Homo sapiens: one gene and its partner. The protein of the gene in region 2 interacts with the protein of the main gene of each other region in a pairwise test. Each region holds a gene or a part of one and is shown on either strand. Other genes may lie near its edges. The genes, in order: SLC16A7 and TIMM23.

Region 1 (9,482 bases), on a different chromosome or scaffold from region 2:
ATAAAGACCCTCCACTTATTTACTAATTACCAAATACGTGTGATAAGTGTTATTTATTCCTCTCGACAATGGTCCATTTTAGGCTAGTCTCTCATATTATGATTTTAAACAGCTGGATCTCTCACATAGGTAGACTCAGCCCCTGGATTCACCATTTATAGCAGCAACTGAGAAAATGAAGCTTTCTCACAAGTTAAAAAAAAAAAAAAGTTCCATTATTCACTGAGAGCTAGTGTGCAGATGTTTCCCAAGATATTTCTTAATCACTTTGATCCAAACAGTTTTGAGAAAGCCTGTGACAAACCAGGATGACTTCTCAAAGGGAGTCCACTTAATGGTTTATTATGCAATTCAACTTTGTTGTGCCATCTAATGGCAAGTTTGGCATTTCAGAGTTCCCAAAAATCTGTTAAAAATAAGCCAGTGATGCTTATGATAAACTAAAAAACATAAAGCCAAATATTTAATACCTAAAAGTAGTTATTGAGTTATTTCTATGTATGTGCTCAGCACAGTGCTATTTCACAGATATTATCTCATTTAATGTTTACAACCAATATACAAAATTGGTTACTATTCTATTTTTACACATGAAGAAACCGAGACTTAAAGAGGTCTAGCAACTTGTCTTTGTTGATAAGTGGCAAAGCTAAAATCAAAACCCAGACAGGCTGGACTTCAGAGCCCCTCGTCTGCCCTGTCCTGTCCCAAGCAGCAGCTCCACAGAGGTTCCAAGATGAATCAGATATACCATCTACTCTCAAAGACCATGTAGCCCAGGAAGAGAGATAGGATGCCTTCCCAAATAATTGTAATTCAAGGTAAAATATAAGAATCAGCCTAAGAGAAGCCCAGATCAAGTTACGAAGTAGTTCAGATGAACACAGATTACTTCAAGATGTGGAAAACAGGAGGGTACTTTTTATTTGGGATGAGTTGAAGGGAGGAGGGGAACAAAGGGCAATAACAGAATGTAATTATTCTTTGCCGCATGCCATTCTATTTATCAGGCACAGTATAAAACAGCTTATATTTGTTATCGTCTTTGGTGTTCAGAACAACAATACAAGTACTACCACAACATTGCATAAGACAAAGCCAGCCAGTGGCTTAACTAAAATTTAAATCCAGTGCCCCTGCATTATGGTCTGCCCTTTTAATTTCTTCCTTCTTTTTTTTTCCTGGTCCACCTTGAGTAGGTCACTCTTTGATGTTTGCACTTCATGGGCACCTTTTGCTAATTTGTCAAACCAAAGAGAATATTTTCCTATTCTGCATAAATGAGCATCATAAACTAGATGATTAGATGCAAGACAAGGAAAAGGAATCCTCAAAAGAGCCTCAACTATTGTGTTCTCAGGGCAGAGTTCATGCTGGATTTCCTGCCAGATTCAGTGTTGAAGGCGGGAGACACTTGGACTTGCTAATTTTTATTTCCTCCTCTTCCTCCTTCCCTCTAGTTCTGCTTCCCTCCCTCTTTCCTTCTTTCTATAATCAGTTGTTCTGAACCATGACATGCCAGACACTGTACTGGGCTATGGAGAAAACAACAGGTAAGGTCTTTGCTCTTATTTAGCTTCATGCAAGGCAGAAGCTATATGACACAGTGGTTAAAGCCAAACAGATCGCATCGGTGCTTGCCCCAGCTCAACCACTTACTAACTGTACCAGCTGAATAAGCTATGAAACTTTCTGGGCATAAATTCTTTTTTCTGTAAATATGGATATGGACAGATCCACCTCAAATGGTTGCTACATGCTATCAGACAGTAGTAGCACAGTGCCTGGAATATGGTGAGCATTACAGAGTTGTCATTATAGTTATTATATACTACAGTTACTTTATACTCTTAGGAGTGAGTGGATTGGTTTGCCCAAGGTGTAGTAGAAACTGCAACTCAAACTCTTCTCTCAAATAATGGAAATCAATTCATTGACAAAGATAATCTTCAGAGAAGGATCATCCTGCCCTCATAACATGAAGAAAAATCCTTCATTACCTGTTTTTATTCATTAAGGATCACTATTAATGGACAAAAAATGGGCTGAATACAGGTTCCTGAGAAAAGACATTCTTCTCAAATTTGCCTTTTAGCAGATCTTACCAACATTTCTTACAACTGTGGAGTTCCTTTCAAGTTACTTGGATATATGTTTCTTCCATCAAGAGGAGAAAAAAAATGGACTAAAAGGCAAATGGGATACAAGAAAGATTAACCTGAATGACTGACTATATGAGAACTTCTTGAAAGCAGAATTACAGCCTCATTCATCTTGGCAACCCTGGTAGGGTGTCTAGACTGATTATAGGGGCTCAAATATAGCCCGTCTGTATTCTAGGTACTTACCACACACTTCATTCTTCCCAATATCACTTCAGAGTGGGTACCACCAATCTCATTTTATAGACAAGAAAAAGGTAAAGCCCAGATTGTTAAACAATTACTCAACCTTACAAAAGTGCAGAACCAATCTGTTCTAAAGTTAATTCCCTTTTTCCATGTGAATGTCTCAAAAATGTTTGGTGGATGAATACAGAATTAAAAGCAAATTCTGGAGATGCCTTTTATTTCAGATCCGTGATCCAGGAATATGACTCCAGACAAGGGAGGTTTATTTAGGTAATGTTGCTCTCCTTCCCTTTAAAAGAGCTCAAAGCCAAAAATATAAGCCAGACATTATCAAAGAGCAAATGAATGTCTAGAAATAAACTGAGCATTTATAGAAGGATACACTAATTTGAACATCGGGAAACAGATGTTAAAATTTCAGATCACTTATTATTCAAACATGCCTTGGGGGGAAAAAAGTAATATGTAACTGCAAACTGTTGTTGTATTTGCAAAAAATAGTTTCTGAGTTTGTAAGTTGTTACACAATACACTGAGTTTCTTACGGTTGTAATCTTTCCTTTCCACTGAGATCATTCAGTCCCTCACTTGGATTGCTTTAAATGTAATCTGCTCAGTCAGAAGTAGAACCTGGAGTTAGGATTGCTTCACCAGAGCTAAATATTAGTCACTTTGCTCAACCCTCATTTGCCCTCTGCTGTCCCCACCCAACTCTCATTTTTCAGCCACACTCCACCAAATGCATACTTAGTGCTTGTGGTTCCAGTAACACAACACATTCAAGCTAACCTGTCTGTGGAAAGTTTGCAACCCTCTGAGTTCAGACTGGGGTTAGCCATGAAGCATGGGGTGACAGGAAATGGCATCCAGTAGTCACTCTTTCCTCTGGGTCCAGTCTTTTTCCCATCACTTTCATCATTGTCCGCTATTTTATTCCTCTGCCGCATCTCCTTTGGGACCCAAGAGGGAAGGAGGACACGAAATAATACAGGAAAGGAAATCAAAAAACAATTGTAGAGAAACCACTCCTCGTTTCCTCTTCTATGTCTCGTGTGTGTGTGTGTGTGTGTGTGTGTGTGTGTGTGTGTGTGTGTGTGTAAAATTTTAATTTCCCTGGAATTGGAACTACAGAAGTCCCTCCTCAGCCCTACCGGGAAAGTGGCACTGGGCACGACCGCCCTTTCCAAGGCAGTCTGCAATCCTTTTCGCGGAAGTAGAGGAGAAAAGGGGGTGGAGAAGGGCGCCGCGATGCAGCATCCGCTGAGAAAACAGGCAGTTCGCACGTGAGCGGGCTCGCAGCCTGTGGCGCCACCTGACCGGGCCTGGCGCCCCCAATGTGGTGCAGTGGCCCAGCAAGACCAGAAGGCTCAGGCCCTCCTGAACCCTTGCCAAGTCAGAGGTCCCTTTCTGCCTGGGCTCAGGCCTCGCCCGCATATAGTTTTCCATCTGCTTCCACCCCTGCCATCCTTCCTGGGGACCAAAAATGAAGAAAGACAACCCCCCCATCCCCCGGTATTTCGTCTTCCCCTCACAGCCTCTTCCTGTCCTGATCATCTGCTCAAAGAGAAGACGTTCTCTCCACACACTCCACCCCCGCCTCCACCTTCTGCGGCAATGAAGCCACGCCACCCTAGGGGGCTCGGGGGCCGGATGCTGGCGGGGCGCGCACTAGAGACACGCCGCACTGGAAGCAGCCCTCGGAGTCCCGTGAGCCAGGGAGACTGGGGTGCACCGCGCCACGCTGAGTCTCGGTGTAAAAGCCGAGAGCGTGAGCACCTCCTGGCCGAAAGCACGCGAGGCGCTCCTTGCCCAGGACCCCGCGCGCCCCCTCAGTTCCCGGGCAGCTGTCGGCGCGCACTGGCTGACGCGAGCTCTGCTCCCGCGGCCGCTTCGGGATTTTTTTGTCTATATAAGGGCTCGCTGGCCAACTCTGCGTTGGCACGTTTGTCACAGGCTGGCCATTATTTGCACACACGCGTGCGGCTCCGCGGGCAGCTCGGGTCGCAGACGCAGGCTCGCCCTCCTCTTAGCCGGCACCTCCTCCTCCTCCTCCTCCTCTCCCCTCCCTCCCCAGCTGTACTTACTTTATCTGGTCTCTGGCGCAGGGTGGGCGCTGCAGCCCTCCGTTCCCAGCAAACCGCAGCCGATTCGCCTCGCTGTCAACGGGTGAATGGAATTATTTATTTATTTATGGCCCCTGACGTGTCCTCGCCCGCCACAGCCAGCGGAGAAGGAGGCGGTGGCGGGAAGGGGAGGCGCGGCTGCTGAACGCCCTTGTGGGTGCGGAGGAGCGCGCGCCAGGGGTGGGGGCCGGACAGGCTGCGGTGGAGGCCGGCCCGGGGGGTGGTGGGGGGGAGCCGCCTCCCGGTGCCTGGAGACCGACTGAGCATGCTCCAAGCGGCTGTCAAAGCTATAGGCACTTTCTCTATCGCTCGGGGCACTCCACTTCGGATTTTAGTTTTGACCAAGGAAGAAAGCCAAAAGGCAGGTAGATCTGTCTTTCCAGATGGGTCGTAACTTGCTGTATCCGAAGTACTCTGTAGCCTGACCTAGAAGACAGATGTGCGGTAGCTCTGTGCAACCCAAGCATGGGAGAGGAAAGCATGCAAAAAAAGAAGAGTCTGGCCGAATGCAGGGAGAATAGGAGATCCTCATTGTGAGCTTGCAGGGAAAGTGTTGAGCCATTTTTCAACTGAGGCCTTTTTGGGAGAAAGAGGTAGGGCACTGTTGGAGATTAGACTCACCAACCAAATCACTTCACGGAAAAAAATATAATTGACACCATAGGAGGAAGGACATAGAAAACAGCACCAAAAAACATTAAAAATAAGAAGGATTTTTTTTCAAATCATTTATAATTCCTTTCATTTTTAATTTCTCAAATTACTTAGTTCTTCAAACCAGCATTTAGTTATTTGACAACGAATAGTGCTAGAGATAATGGTAATTCTGCTGTCATTGGTTTGGTCTCTTCCCCTGTCTAAAATGTGCTTCTTGGTAAAACTGGAAAGAGGAAGGGCTGGAAGAGAACATTTAAGTAACCCCATAGATTGGGTTTCTTTAATATCTTTAAGTTAAATTGCCACTTTAGAGAAAAAGAAACTATCCAAAAGAATAATTGTAGGTTTTGGCTTGACAAGTCCTATTGCAGTTTGTCTACCAGTTTAGCTAGCTTTCTCCTCCTTGATTTCACAATCATTTTAAGGTGTGTTCTATGATTCTTCACATTTTACGAATTTATAAAAAGAGTTAAGTCATTTGGGTAAATTCACATTGTCTTTGCCACAGCTAGTCTGTTGTAATGGACGAAATTTGAATTTCAATTTCTGTAGCTATGAAATAAAAGTAATATCAATCGTGTTGATTTCATAAGATTTAAGTGAAATAATATACATGAAGTGGCTGGTAGGCATAATACAAGATGAAAAAATAATCGTGATTAATAACATCAAAATTACTGGAAGATAATTTTATTGAAAGAATGATATTTGAAAATGAAAAAAAGGCAGAAAATTACAGAAAGGATTTTATATTTTTAAGCTAAAAATGCTTAAATAGACATTTGTATAAGACATAATAGGCCTTTGATAATGATGAAATGTCTAGCAGTGACTATAAACACTTCATTTAATTAAAAAAAGTTAAACATTTAAAAGAAACAACATAAAGGCACATTTCAAGGTCATAGTCTTGAGTGTTTGCTATTGATATTTTTCCTGCTCATTCATCACTTTTATTTCCTGTCAAAGAAGAGGAAGAAGAAAGACCATATGCTTTCTGAATTTTGATCCTATTCTCCCTTTTCCTTCTCTTTGATTTTTCTTTTTTGTTGTTTTTTTCTTATAGTCCCATGTTCTTGACCTGTTTAACCTATTGCTGAATGCCAAACATCACTACTTATAGCATGATATCGTAACCTTCTTTTTAAGTCTTGTTTTTTCAACAATTAAAACTCTGGATCTAATTTACCTACTGTCACAGAGTTAGTATTTGGGAACTCATTTCTAAATTGCTTTGTTGTGATAGCTAGGTATGTTATGTAAAATTTGATTGGACTAGAAAGGTATCTGAAAGGAGGGAGAATCAGCTAAGAATAAATTCAGCCAGTTTATCCTATGACTTACAGTTTAATATTGTTAAGAAATTGAGAAAAAAATACAATTTAGGGAAAAAATAAGCCATATGATTAGAACTTGGAATGCTCTGGTAAAATGTTTGCCTTGATTTATATTCATAAGCTGAAATAACAGTGGGAAAAACAAATAGCAATACACTTAGCATTCTAGCAACTCATATTCCACAGATGAGCAAACTGTGAATACGTACATCACATATATACTCATGAAGTCCACATGTCTTTTACTATATACCCACATCCTTGTGGTTTAGGTTCTTTCTCCCTTCTTCATTCCTCAGTCATACACAATCTTCTCACATTTTTCTGTCTTTTATCATTCACTGCCCTCTTTTCCATATCAAACTTGTCTAAACCTTTTTTCCTCCTTTAATGCCCAGCAAATATATCATCACTTCTATAGCATTTTAAGGATTCTTTGTTAACAAATAAGGGTTAAGTTCATCTTTCTCTGTGATCCTGCCCATAGAAAATGATTTAGGCCTCTATCTGGGGCATTTTGTTTCAGCTTCACATATGACTATATTATAATATGATTTTTGTTTCTGTAGCCCCAATATATTAGGCTATTTGAAAGTAGAGATGACATTTTATTCATCTCTGGGATTGTCACAGGCATTTGAACCAGAGTGACTCCATCTTGAGTAAGGCCTGGGTAAAATGAGGCTGAGACTTATTGGGCTGCATTCCCAGGAGATTAAGGCATTCTTAGTCACAGAATAAGATAGGAGGTTGGCACAAGATACAGGTCATAAAGACCATGCTGATAAAACAGGCGGCAGTAAAGAAGCCAGCTAAAACCCACCAAAACCAAAATGGAGACGAAAGTGACCTCTGGTCCTCCTCACTCCTCATTATGTGCTAATTACAATGCATTAGCATGCTAAAAGACATTCCCACCAGTGCCATGACAGTTTACAAATGCCATGGTAAGGTCAGGAAGTTACCCCATATGGTCTAAAATGGGGAGAAACCCTCAGTTCCCAGAATTTCCCACCCCTTTCCCAGAAAACTCATGAATAATCCATCTCTTGTTAACATATAATCAAGAGGTAATAATAAGTATAAGCAGCGGAGCAGCCCATGCTGCTACTCTGCCTATGGTGTAGCCATTTTTTTGTTCCTTTACTTTCCTAGTACTCCTGCTTTCATTTATAGACTCATCCCAAATTATTTCTTGCATGAAATCCAAGAACCCTCTCTTGGGGTCTGAATCAGTACCCCTTTCGGGTAACAGAATCATCTATCATGCAGCACAAATCGTTGCAGATAGAAAATAGTAACGTTTGCCAAATGAAGAAAAGAGATGACAGTGTGGCTGTAGGCAACAGATATGTGGTAGAAGCTATTGGTGCTCACAATATCTATGATCTGCCTGGCTCCACACTTCCTGGCTTTCCTTACAGTTATATTGGGACCATGCAACTATGTAGTTCTAAAACAGTATGAATGGAAGTGACATGTGTAATTTCTGGTAAAGGGAGTTAAGACCCAGTGTACCTCCTTCATCACTCCCTTTCCCTGCCATAGTACCATGTTTCTGATGAACTAGCTACAAAATGGAATCTCTGAAAAAGAAAGAAAGACTGCTTGAATTGCACTGTACTTTGTGTGAGCAAGAGACCATTGTTTTAAGCCTTGGAAATTTCAGGCTCTATTTGTCATGGGAACAAAACCTAGCCTATTCTGACCAATATAAGATATTACTGAAAAAGACAATAAGTCAGCCAGGCGTGGTGGCTCATGCTTGTAATCCCAGCACTTTGGGAGGCCAAGGCAGGTAGATCACCTGAGGTCAGAAGTTCAAGACTAGCCTAGCCAACATGGTGAAAACCCATCTCAACTAAAAATACAAAAAAAAAAAAAAAAAATTAGCCAGGTGAGGTGGTGGGCACCTGTAATCCCAGGTACTTCGGGAGGCTGAGGCAGAAGAATCGCTTGAATCCGGGAGGCAGAGGTTGCAGTGAGCCAAGATCGCAACACTGCACTCCAGCCTGGGCAGCAAGAGCAAAATTCCGTCTCGAAAAAAGAAATTGTAAATCATAAAGGCATAAAATCCCCAATGAAACATTGAACTTTTGAAAGTGCACTAATGTGTCCTTAAGTCAAAACTAAAAATATAGTCTCATGACCCCAAAATTCATATAATAGCCTTTTCAGAGTAAGACTGTGAGATTAAATTAAGGGTGTGTGTGTTTATAAACTACACACAATAGATTTGTTATAGCTAAGTACAAAAGACCAGATGTCCCAATGCTCCCCTCAACTTGGGTGAAAACAAATGTACACCTGCCTTCAAGTGGCAACATACTATGGTTGAGATTGTAGCTGGCTAGCAGCTGTGAATATGATTGCTGTGACCTGGTTTCACAGATTATACAAACTATAGAAATATATCTCCACTACTTCTAGATTTAAATCTTGCGTATATCTATATAGGCTACTTTGGAAATATCTTCTATGAAAAACTCCCATAGGATTTTGGGGAATGACAATCTAGTCCGATTCAACAAAGCATATAAAAGGGGAATCAATTGCATTGGCATTGCTGTATGGTATGCCTTTAAATAATAGCACACAAGAATCTTTGGTTTAAAACAAAATGGGTTTTTTGGCTCCAAAAATCTCTTAACGGATTATGTATTAAAAAACTTGTTTGTTGGGGTATTTTTCTAAATTTACATTTTATCAATTATTATCTGTAAACTAAACTTAATGGATTCTGGGTGTTTTATAGATGCTTTACCACGTAAATATTCTGATTATTTTGAATGCATATAAGATTAGAAACTTAAATTAAAAGTTATCATCATAGACTGTAAACTTTTCAGGCAGAAATCTTGTAAACGGTGGCTAATGAGTATTAATATATTTTATGAAATGAATCAATGATGACTGAATGTGTTATCAAGAAGCTAAGGCTTTAGTGCCTTTTTCTGTACAGTTGATCTTTGCTGGGTTCCTTAACCTCTCTGAGTCATATGTTTTTACTTTAA
Region 2 (9,632 bases):
GTAGTCCCAGCTACTCAGGAGGCTGAGATGGATCACCTGAGCCCAGGAGGTCAAGGCTACAGTGAGCCTTGATTGTGCCACTGCACTCCAGCCTGGATGACAGAGTGAGACTCTGTCTTAAAAAAAAAATTAAAATAAGCTGGGAGTGGTGGCTCACGCCTGTAATCCTAGCACTTGGGAGGCTGAGGAGGGTGGAACACCTGAGGTCAGGAGTTTGAGACCAGCCTGACCAATATGGTGAAACCCTGTCTCTACTAAAAATACAAGAATTAGCCAGATGTGATGGTATGTGCCTCCAGTCCCAGCTACTCAGGAAGCTGAGATGGGAGAACTGCTTGATCCCAGGAGGTGGAGGTTGCAGTGAGCTGAGATCATGCCACTGCACTCCAGCCTGGGTGACACCTAGACTCCGTCTCAAAAAAGAAAAAAAAAAAAAAAAAAATTAAAAGTTGCCTTTGGGAAAAGGGAATTAAGGTGAGACGTATAGAACACTGTTGCACATCACTAAAATCTTTTAGATGTTAAAAAGATAAAAACCTTGACTTAAAAAATCATGTATGTGGATTAAACATCATTAAAATCTTTTAGATGTTAAGATAAAAACCTTGACTTAAAAAATCACGTATGTGGATTATTTTGATAAAAATAAAAATTAAGTAGCCAAAGATGTATCAACACAATAAAAAAGCTAAATTAGGCATTACTTGAATGTATGCTTCTAAACTAGTAAAACTTATCACAGAAGAGAATTATCTGACCCTTGACAGCAACACGTTGATCTCCCAGTAGAGTAAGATGATCATAGGAATAAGATGCTCTAAATTGACTTACAGGGAAGCCATTCCTGGGCTTTGACCTTGTGTGTGTCTTGTGATAGTTTAATATGCTGATGTCACAGGTCAAACTATTGTTTAAAACAAAACCAACAATTCTGAATATTCTATTGCTTAGTCTGTCCAAGATTAAAAAAACTAAACTAAAATGAATGAAAAATACAGAAAAGAATCTTATATTCTTAATGTCAAAAAACCACCATAAACCATATGATCCAAGAATTCCACTTCTGCACATATATCCAAAAAAAGAAAGAAGGACCTTGAAGAGATATTTGTACATCCATATTCGTAGCAGCATTATTCACAATAGCCAAAAGGTAGAAGCAACCCAAATATTCCTTGATAAAAGAACGCACATGCAAAATGTGGTATACATACACAGAATGAATATTATTTAGCTTTAAAAAGGAAGGGAATTCTGGCACATGCAACAACATGGATGAACCTTGAGGATATTATGCTACGTAAAATAAGCCAATCAAAAAAGGACAAATATTGTATGATTCTACTTATATGAGGTGCCTAAAGCAGCCAATTCAGAGACAGAAAGTGTAACATTATCAAGAGCTAAGGAAGTGGTAAATTGGGAGGCTTAATAGGTACAGAGTATCAGTTTTGCAAGATGAAAAAGTTCCAGAGATTGGTTATATAATCATGTGACTATAATACTAATGTACTGTATACTTAAAAATGGTTAAGATGGGTAAATCTTATGTTTATTTTACCACAATTAAAAACCAAACCAAACCAAAATAACCATAAAGTTAGAACACTAGATTATACTGCAACAGAGTGTAATTTCCTTGAAAACCATGAATTTTAAAAAGCGCACTTCAAGTGTATTAAGAGATGGCTCCCCATTCAACAGTACTCACCTGTACATTTATACAACATGCCTGTCATGGTTCCAGCTGCTACTGTGTTAAGGTCATCTTCTGCACCTCGTGTTTTCTCAATGATGACACCAAATGCACTATAGAGCAAAGCTAAAGAGGAAATGGAAGTGCTCAGTGACAAAACAGTGATAAAGTGTGATATTATGATATACATATATTGGTTTTCATCCATGGTTCCTAGCTCATAACTCCCATAGCCCTTCCTAAGTGACTAAAACAATCACTTGTTAAGGTATTTGTCCTTGGTTCTGGAATCAGCTTTGGAACAGCTTCAGAGGGACAAAGGTGAAGGTCTTTTGTTGTATTACTGGGGCACTTCAGGCCTCAGAAGCAGCCTCAGAAACAGAATCTCTCTCTCTGACCTTCTCCTGCCCTCCTTTCACCTACTCCCTTTTCTCCCCACAGCAGGACTCTAATCTTTCCCCACACCTTTCTGTCTTGGAACTGGCCATAAAGAAATTCTATGACCTACCTTGTCTGATTGCAGGCTGTAAGACCCCCATTTCAGAAAAGATCGTACCCCATACCCAGGAAGAAGAAATGCTGCACAGAAAGGCCAAGGGAGAATCTGGGCAGGCAGGCCTTGCTGGGTTTCTGTGCCCAGTCTATTAGTAGTAGAGCATGCCCTTTTTGTCCAATCACAGTTCTATAAGGTTGTCCATGCTTCAGTCATGCCTATCCAATCAATTTTCCACATGAGGCCCAAGTGGATGGGGTCGGAGGACTTTCTGGACAGCTGAACTCATGGGACTTGCAGGAAAGTGAGAAAGAACTCACCCACGTGTCAGGAGGCTAGTGCACCCCAACTCCAGTGAAATGAAAGCTCCTGCACTCAGGGCCCATCCAGGCCTCACCTTATGTATTCCTTGACTGGGCTATTTGTATCCTTTAAAAATATCCAGCCAGGTGTGGTGGCTCACAAAGTTTCTGTAATCCCAGCACTTTGGGAGGCCGAGGTGGGAAGATCACATGAGCCCAGGAGTCAGAGACCAGTTTGGGCAACAACATAGGGATACCCCCTTCTCTAAAAAAATTTAAAAAAAAATTAGTTGGTATGGTGGTGCATGTTGCCTGTAGTCCCAGCTCCTTGAAAGGCTGAGGTGGGAGGCTTGCTTAAGCCCAGAAGTCTAGGTTGCAGTGAGCTCCACTGCACTCTAGCATGGGTGACAGAGCAAGACCCTGTCTCAAAAAAAAAAAAAAAAAAAAAAAAATCTTTATAATAAATACGCAAATGTTAAGTATGTGTTCCCTCGAGTTCTGTGAGCCAATCCAATAAATTAATCAAACCCAAAGAGTGGGTTGTGGGAAACCCTGACAAAGCTGGTTGGTCAGAAGCACAGGTAAAATAACCTGGAGCTTGCTATCAGCATCAGAAGTATCCAAAGTGGGGCTCAGTTTTGTGGGACAGAGTGCTCAACCTGCTGATCTAATGCTATCTCCAGGCAGAAGTGAAACAGGTGGACACCCAACTGGTGTCCACTGCAAGAGAGATTACTTGGTATGTGGGGAAATATTCCCACATAACTGGTCACAGAACTATCCTATGTTGACTGTTGTAGTGTGAGAGCAGAGGAAAAACTGTTTTTTTTTTTTCAACACAAAAGTCAGTATGGCAATTATATTTAGAAAAATTTATCCAAAGATATACATGGAATGATCACTAGAACAGTTTCTAATAGCAAACACCTGGCAACAAATAAAATGCCCATCAAGAGCATTTGTACCATCTGAATTGATCCAGAGAGGGACTTTTCATATAATGGAATACTATACAGTCACTTAAAAACCAGAAGAATCATTTTCACTAATAAGTAAATCAGGGACATGTGCACATGGTACACGACTGACTGGCTATGCAGAGAAACGCCTGGAAGAATTCAGAAGAAACATCAATAGTAGCTATTTCTAGAAAGTACCGCTAGGAAGTCTCAGGAAGAATATTTAAAATTTTCATTTATATGCTACCCATAATTGCTATACTTCAGATTAAAGACACACACATACACACACACACACACACACGTATTTCTAGTATAAGAAAAAATAGATTAAAAAAAAAGTGAGGTTTGATTCTCACGTATTATAACACTAGCACCATTTCATTTTAAAGTATCTTCCCCCAAGCCATCCTTCTATGCTCTTGCAGATTCCTATCTGGAACGAATGTTAAACTTTTAAACTCTTTCTCAAAATTATAGCTACACTTGCCCCTTGCAACAATACACCGCGCTCAGCCTTACAACTCCTCTACTGCAGTATTTTTATACTTCTATGAAAGCTCATCTTCCTCTTCAACTTATTTAACTGAAACTGATCACGAGCAGAACACCCTTCTTGATCATACCACAATGGGTACACAGAGGGTGACCAGCCATTCTAGTTTGTCCAGGACTGTGGGGCGGGGTGGGCGGGGGGTGATTATTGGAACATAGTTTCTTGGACTTTTCTCTGACAGTCCTACGCAGACAAGGACAGCTGACTACTCTAGGTATACAAGCAATTAAAAGAAACAGAGCGGGGTGACTCTGTAGGAGGGTGGGAGGAATGCAGACATCAGCAACATATGAAAGCAGCCATCTCTTAGGATCCAAAGTGTGAAAACTAGCTTTACAGTGTGAAGATGTACTGCTTCCAAATTCTGTGACAAGGCAGGACCTTACCCTGCCATAACAAACGCTTTTTCTATGTTTTCAATGAGTTTTCTATGTCTTCCCCTCCTTAATCTGCCACAATTTAAATTGAGATTTTCAACTAAGTTCATACAGTAGGAAAATTTTGGATGTCAGGACATAAGCCATAAGAGATCTATTGTAAGTGATCAATCATTCATAAACAATATGGTATGAAAGCATAAGGCTCTGACTAAGCACTACTAAGTTACCTTTTGCCTAGAACTGCAAACGTTTTCATTATCTACAAGGAACCTATTCCAATTGTGGCAATTAGGTGCCTGAAATCTACTCAGGTAAACAGACTAATGAACCGGCTATTAAGAAAACATAGCAAGAGGGCTGGATTAATTTATCATGTATCACTACAGGACCTTGAACCTTGCCTAACATACAAAGCTCTTTACTTTGGACCTAAATTACCTGGATTTCATTTAAACATGATTTTATTGGGTGTTGTGCTTGGAAAGGAGAGTGTGCAGTGTCCAAAAGATTTTAAAAATTCAGCAATGGTATTCAGAACGGTATTAGCACCTGAGATTATTTCATAAGTTAGTTCATGGTCTTTCCCTAAGTAGTATCTACATTATGCATTGGAATGGGTTTAAACATAATTGTCTCATATCCTAGGACCAGAATATGGGTTGATCAAATTGTTCATGATATTTGTGCATTCTTTCTTTAACAATTTATTATCAAATGAGATCTCTACTTACCCAGAGAACCTAGAGTATTAGCCCAAAGTGCCCCTTGCCTAGTCACCATATTCAAAATCCTATCAGGGCAGAAAGAGAAAGAATCTGTATTTAGAATCATTATTTCTCTAGTAACCTTTAAAAACAATAATGGCTATTTAACATGTCTAGACCCAGGGCGCAAAGTTTTTTAAATTCTAAAATACATCTTAATATCTCCGATTTCAATAAGGATGGTTTTTACTCTACATAAGTGAAAATTAGGTTAAAACTTTCAAAACTTTAGGCAAAAGTCTTAAGGACTTTTATATAAGTCCTTAATAATAATAATAAGGAAAACTCTTATTATTAAATGTATAATATAATGAATACACATTAAATATATATAAGGCTTTGAATGACAGCCTGGAATGTATCTTACAGAGGTTTACAGAAACTAATCTATGTAAAAAATGCCACTGTTAACTATGGCGAGCTAGCTTCTAAAAGGTTCTTTTTGGGAGGGGAACATATGCTTAGAATGTTAAAGATAATCAAAGTAAAGAATATCAAAGTACAGAATATAAAGTAAAGAATATCAAAGTACAGAATATAAAGTAGAATTAAAGAGAAGGAATCAGCCATCTAACTAGAATACATGGGGAAAGCACCCTGTGTCTGCTCCTAGACTAGAACCAAGCAGCCAAGGTGAATGCTCAGCACACTCTCAAGGAAGCACAGTTCTGCCTTGCACCAGTGCCAGACACCACCAGAACAGTGATGGACGCAACTGGATGAAGAGAAGACATTCTTCTCCCAGCAGTGTAACATGATCCCAGGAATGGTTCTGTCCAGACAGCTGACTACTGCTGGAAATTATGGAAATACAGTAACAAAGAGTGAAGGAACTCATTCAGTTTAATTATTAAACGACTCAATTAATGTTCTACAGAAACAAAAATTTGTATTTTCTAAAAGATTGTTTTAAAAAATCAGTAATGTTTACAAACAGAAGTATATTGTTTCTAATTATGTTACATATTTACTAACATATTTTAAGTTCAGCCATCATTTTTTCATTTTTAACAAGCATTTTAATAACTTGTTTTAAGAAAGGAAGCAAGTTGTCTTTTCTAGGAGATCTACTTCCAAATTTGTATTTAATATGATATTGGGGTTTTTGTCTCAAAATAAGATGGGAGAGGAGAAGGAAATGGGATAGAACTGGCCATGGTTGATGGTTGTTGAGGATGCGTTATGGTTCATGTGTTCACTATGCTATGTATTTTGTCTACTTTTATATATTCAAAATTCCCCATAATACAAAAACTTAAAAATATTATTGAAGCGAGGGACAAGTAATAAAAATATTGAAGGATCTAGGCTGGTAAAGCATGGACAGAGATCCACACAGTAACAGGAATATAAAAAACTTAACAGGGCTAGGCGCAGTGGCTCACATCTGTAATCCCAGCAGTTTGGAAGGCTGAGGCAAGAGGATCACCTGAGCTCAGGAGTTTGAGAACAGCCTGAGCAATACAGTGAGACCCCGTCTCTACAAAAAATTAAAAAATTAACTGGGCATGGTGGCATGTGCCTGTAGTCCCAGCTACTCGGGAGGCTGAGGTGGGAGGATCACTTGAGCCCAGGAGGTCAAGGCTACAGTGAGCTGTGATGGCGCCATTGCACTCCAGCTCAGGCAACACAGCAAGGCCCTGTCTCTCAAAAAACCACACAATTTAACAGGCCTTCCAGTTTCCCATGGTCTAATTCTAGCACATCTGGTGCCATCTGCTGGCTGAACAATATGAAAGGAAGATGGAGTTTAAAGTGTCCTAAAACAAAACAGTAGCCATCGAAGAATACATACTCATGATTCCACTTACATGAAGCATAAAAATGGGCAAAACTAAACATATTGTTTAAGGAATATCAAGAGGGACTGGCCATGTTTACTTCTTAAGTTGGGTGAAAACATACTTTCCGATCCTTTTAACTGTACTTTCCCTTCTCTGTAACTTCAAGTTCTAACAGAAAACTGTGTCTTATCCTTTTGGAATTAACTCTAATTCTAAAAATTTTATTTAAAATGTATCTGGCTCATCATTTCGGAAACATAAAGTCAAGACAGTAAGAACTTCAAGTTAAATGATGGCAGCTTGAGCCATCACTCTCATGAGCTGCTTATTCTTCATTACCATTTCCTATGGATCTGCATGCCCCCAAACAATCCAAAATTCCCATTAGCAACTCAACAATTTGAAAAGCAAGTCACATAGGGTTGGAGAATGTAACAGGTGCAGCTGAGAAGTCAGGCTGGCATAGCACTAGCTGACTGAGGGACACTGATTAAAAAAATCACTCCTTTTTAAAAGCTTAGAGTCAGTAATCTGATTCCTTAGTTGCTTTTATTTTGATTAAGATTAAAAAACAAAGACAAAAAAGCACATAACTATGCTAACCATCTGTAATCTCAAGGTTGTACTCATCAAACCAATACAACAGAGCTTAATATTCAAGTATCACTACATCAGATGGTTACAAGAGACTTACTGTACATTTCTTGGTTTGGACCAGGCCATGTTCTGGGTTTCCTTCAATCCTAGCCGAAGACCATTCATTGCACCAAACGCAGCCCCTGGTAAATCATAACAATTCACCCAGATAAAGACAGCTTTATATTAAAAAAACAAACTCAAATCTGCATAACTACACTTCTGATTCTTTTTCATTTTTATTTAATAGAAAAAGACAAATGTAAATATTAAAAAAAAAACCCTGAAACCAACATTCTAATTGCTTTTGATTTTACGCACCCTCAACTACTTGAACTGAGCACTCTTGAGAAAAAAGTATGTAACACTCACCTGTCATGCAACATCCTCCAATCGTAAAGAAGGCCAGCTCAAATCTGCCCCGGGTTTTATTAGCTCCGGTAGGTAAAATAAACTCATCTGTATCCTAAAAGGATAATAATGAAAACCAAGCTGAGTGTCCCTCAAGACACAAATCTTGTAAAGTTGCCTTTTTAACATTTCAAAGTAGTTTTTCACAGAAAATAAACCTTAAATTAACTCAAACCTATACTTAAACAAAAATAAAACTTTCTGCAGCAGTAACACCTAAATCAAAGTGAAATGAAATACGAAACATAGTTCTTAGAAGGGAGTCTCATTAAAGACTTTGTTTCCTTCAAAACGTAAATCTGATAGATTTGTGCAAAAGTGTTTAGAAAGGACAGCTCTAGAGAAAGGAACACTGAAAGCTATGAGAAGAACAGAACAGACAATCAGTCTGGAAGAAACAAATAACTTTCATTCTGTAGCAGCTATTTATTGTGCATTTTTCTATGTATAAAGCCAAATGTTCACAAACATGAGCAAAAACTAATAAAGTACAACAGTTTGGATCAATTATGCAAGGGCAAATGACCCCCTTTAATAATTCTTATCTGTTTAAGGAGTATATATTCCTTTGATACTCTCAGAAAGCTATAGACCCTATTTCTAGTAATTGCATACACAAAATGTGGCATGAACCCCTGGAAGGTCATCCAAAATACTAAGACTGAGAAATGACACTCTTAAGAGCAAAATATGGTTACCAATTTTGAAGAGTCAATGCACCTTTATGAAAAACACACTCAAAAAAACAAACAAAATTTTATCACCATGTTGGATTAAAAAAATAAAATCACACTCATTTTTGGCAAGCTTTCCAACCAAAGATGGTTAAAATAAGCCTCTAATGGCTAGGTCACACCCTTGGCAAAAAGACACATAGTGTGTTACATTTAACATAGTAAAGACCACTGACAATTAACATTCTCCTACATCCTTGTGGCAAATACTGAACGTTGATTCAGAAAATTGTATTCCTAATCAGAAAACTGTGGTTCTGCCTTGGTTTTTTCTTTCTGGCATGTGCACACATCCTCACCAAAAATTGCAAAAGTAAACAAACACATCCACTCTCATCACATAAGAATGGTCTGTTGGGCAATAATAAAATCTGAATAGATCCCATGTCATAATATAATTGTATAGAGTTTTATAAATTTTGGGTACTTCAACTTTTAAATAATGACTTAGTATTAAACTGCTTTTTGTTTGAGTTTTTAGAAATGCTAGATTCAATGTGGTAAGGTAAATAATTATTCTTCAGTCTCAGGCCATGGTTGCTGAGAAGAAAAAAAAAATTATCCTTCAATACAGAAACAGATTACTAATTAAGAATAGAAAACTTGGCCAGGCACGGTGCCTCCCGCCTGTAATCTCAGCGCTTTGGGAAGCCGAGTCGGGTGGACTGCCAGAGCTCAGGAGTTCGAGGCCACCCTGGGCAACATGGTGAAACCCCGTCTCTACTAAAATACAAAAAATTAGCTGGGCGTGGCAGTGTGCGCCTGTAGTCCCAGCTACTTGGGAGGCTGAGGCAGGAGAATTGCTTGAACCCGGGGGTGGAGGTTGCAGTGAGCTGAGATCACGCCACTGCACTCCAGCCTGGGTGACAGAGCGAGACTCCATCTCCAAAAAAAAAAAAGAAAAGAAAACTTAAAAA

What was found.
Region 1: the proteins of TIMM23 (region 2) and SLC16A7 interact in binary tests that used the Homo sapiens proteins (3 or more experiments, as listed by UniProt).

Annotation. Positions count from the first base shown.
Region 1 is NC_000012.12:59,591,190-59,600,671, reverse strand, and holds the start of SLC16A7 (monocarboxylate transporter 2), read right to left. Parts: upstream 4,644-9,482; 5' UTR 4,436-4,643; intron 1-4,435. UniProt on the Homo sapiens protein: Proton-coupled monocarboxylate symporter. Catalyzes the rapid transport across the plasma membrane of monocarboxylates such as L-lactate, pyruvate and ketone bodies, acetoacetate, beta-hydroxybutyrate and acetate.
Region 2 is NC_000010.11:45,980,927-45,990,558, reverse strand, and holds part of TIMM23 (mitochondrial import inner membrane translocase subunit Tim23), read right to left. Parts: intron 8,037-9,632; coding exon 7,943-8,036; intron 7,714-7,942; coding exon 7,629-7,713; intron 5,952-7,628; exon of another isoform or gene 5,748-5,951; intron 5,177-5,747; coding exon 5,118-5,176; intron 1,823-5,117; coding exon 1,712-1,822; intron 1-1,711. UniProt on the Homo sapiens protein: Essential component of the TIM23 complex, a complex that mediates the translocation of transit peptide-containing proteins across the mitochondrial inner membrane.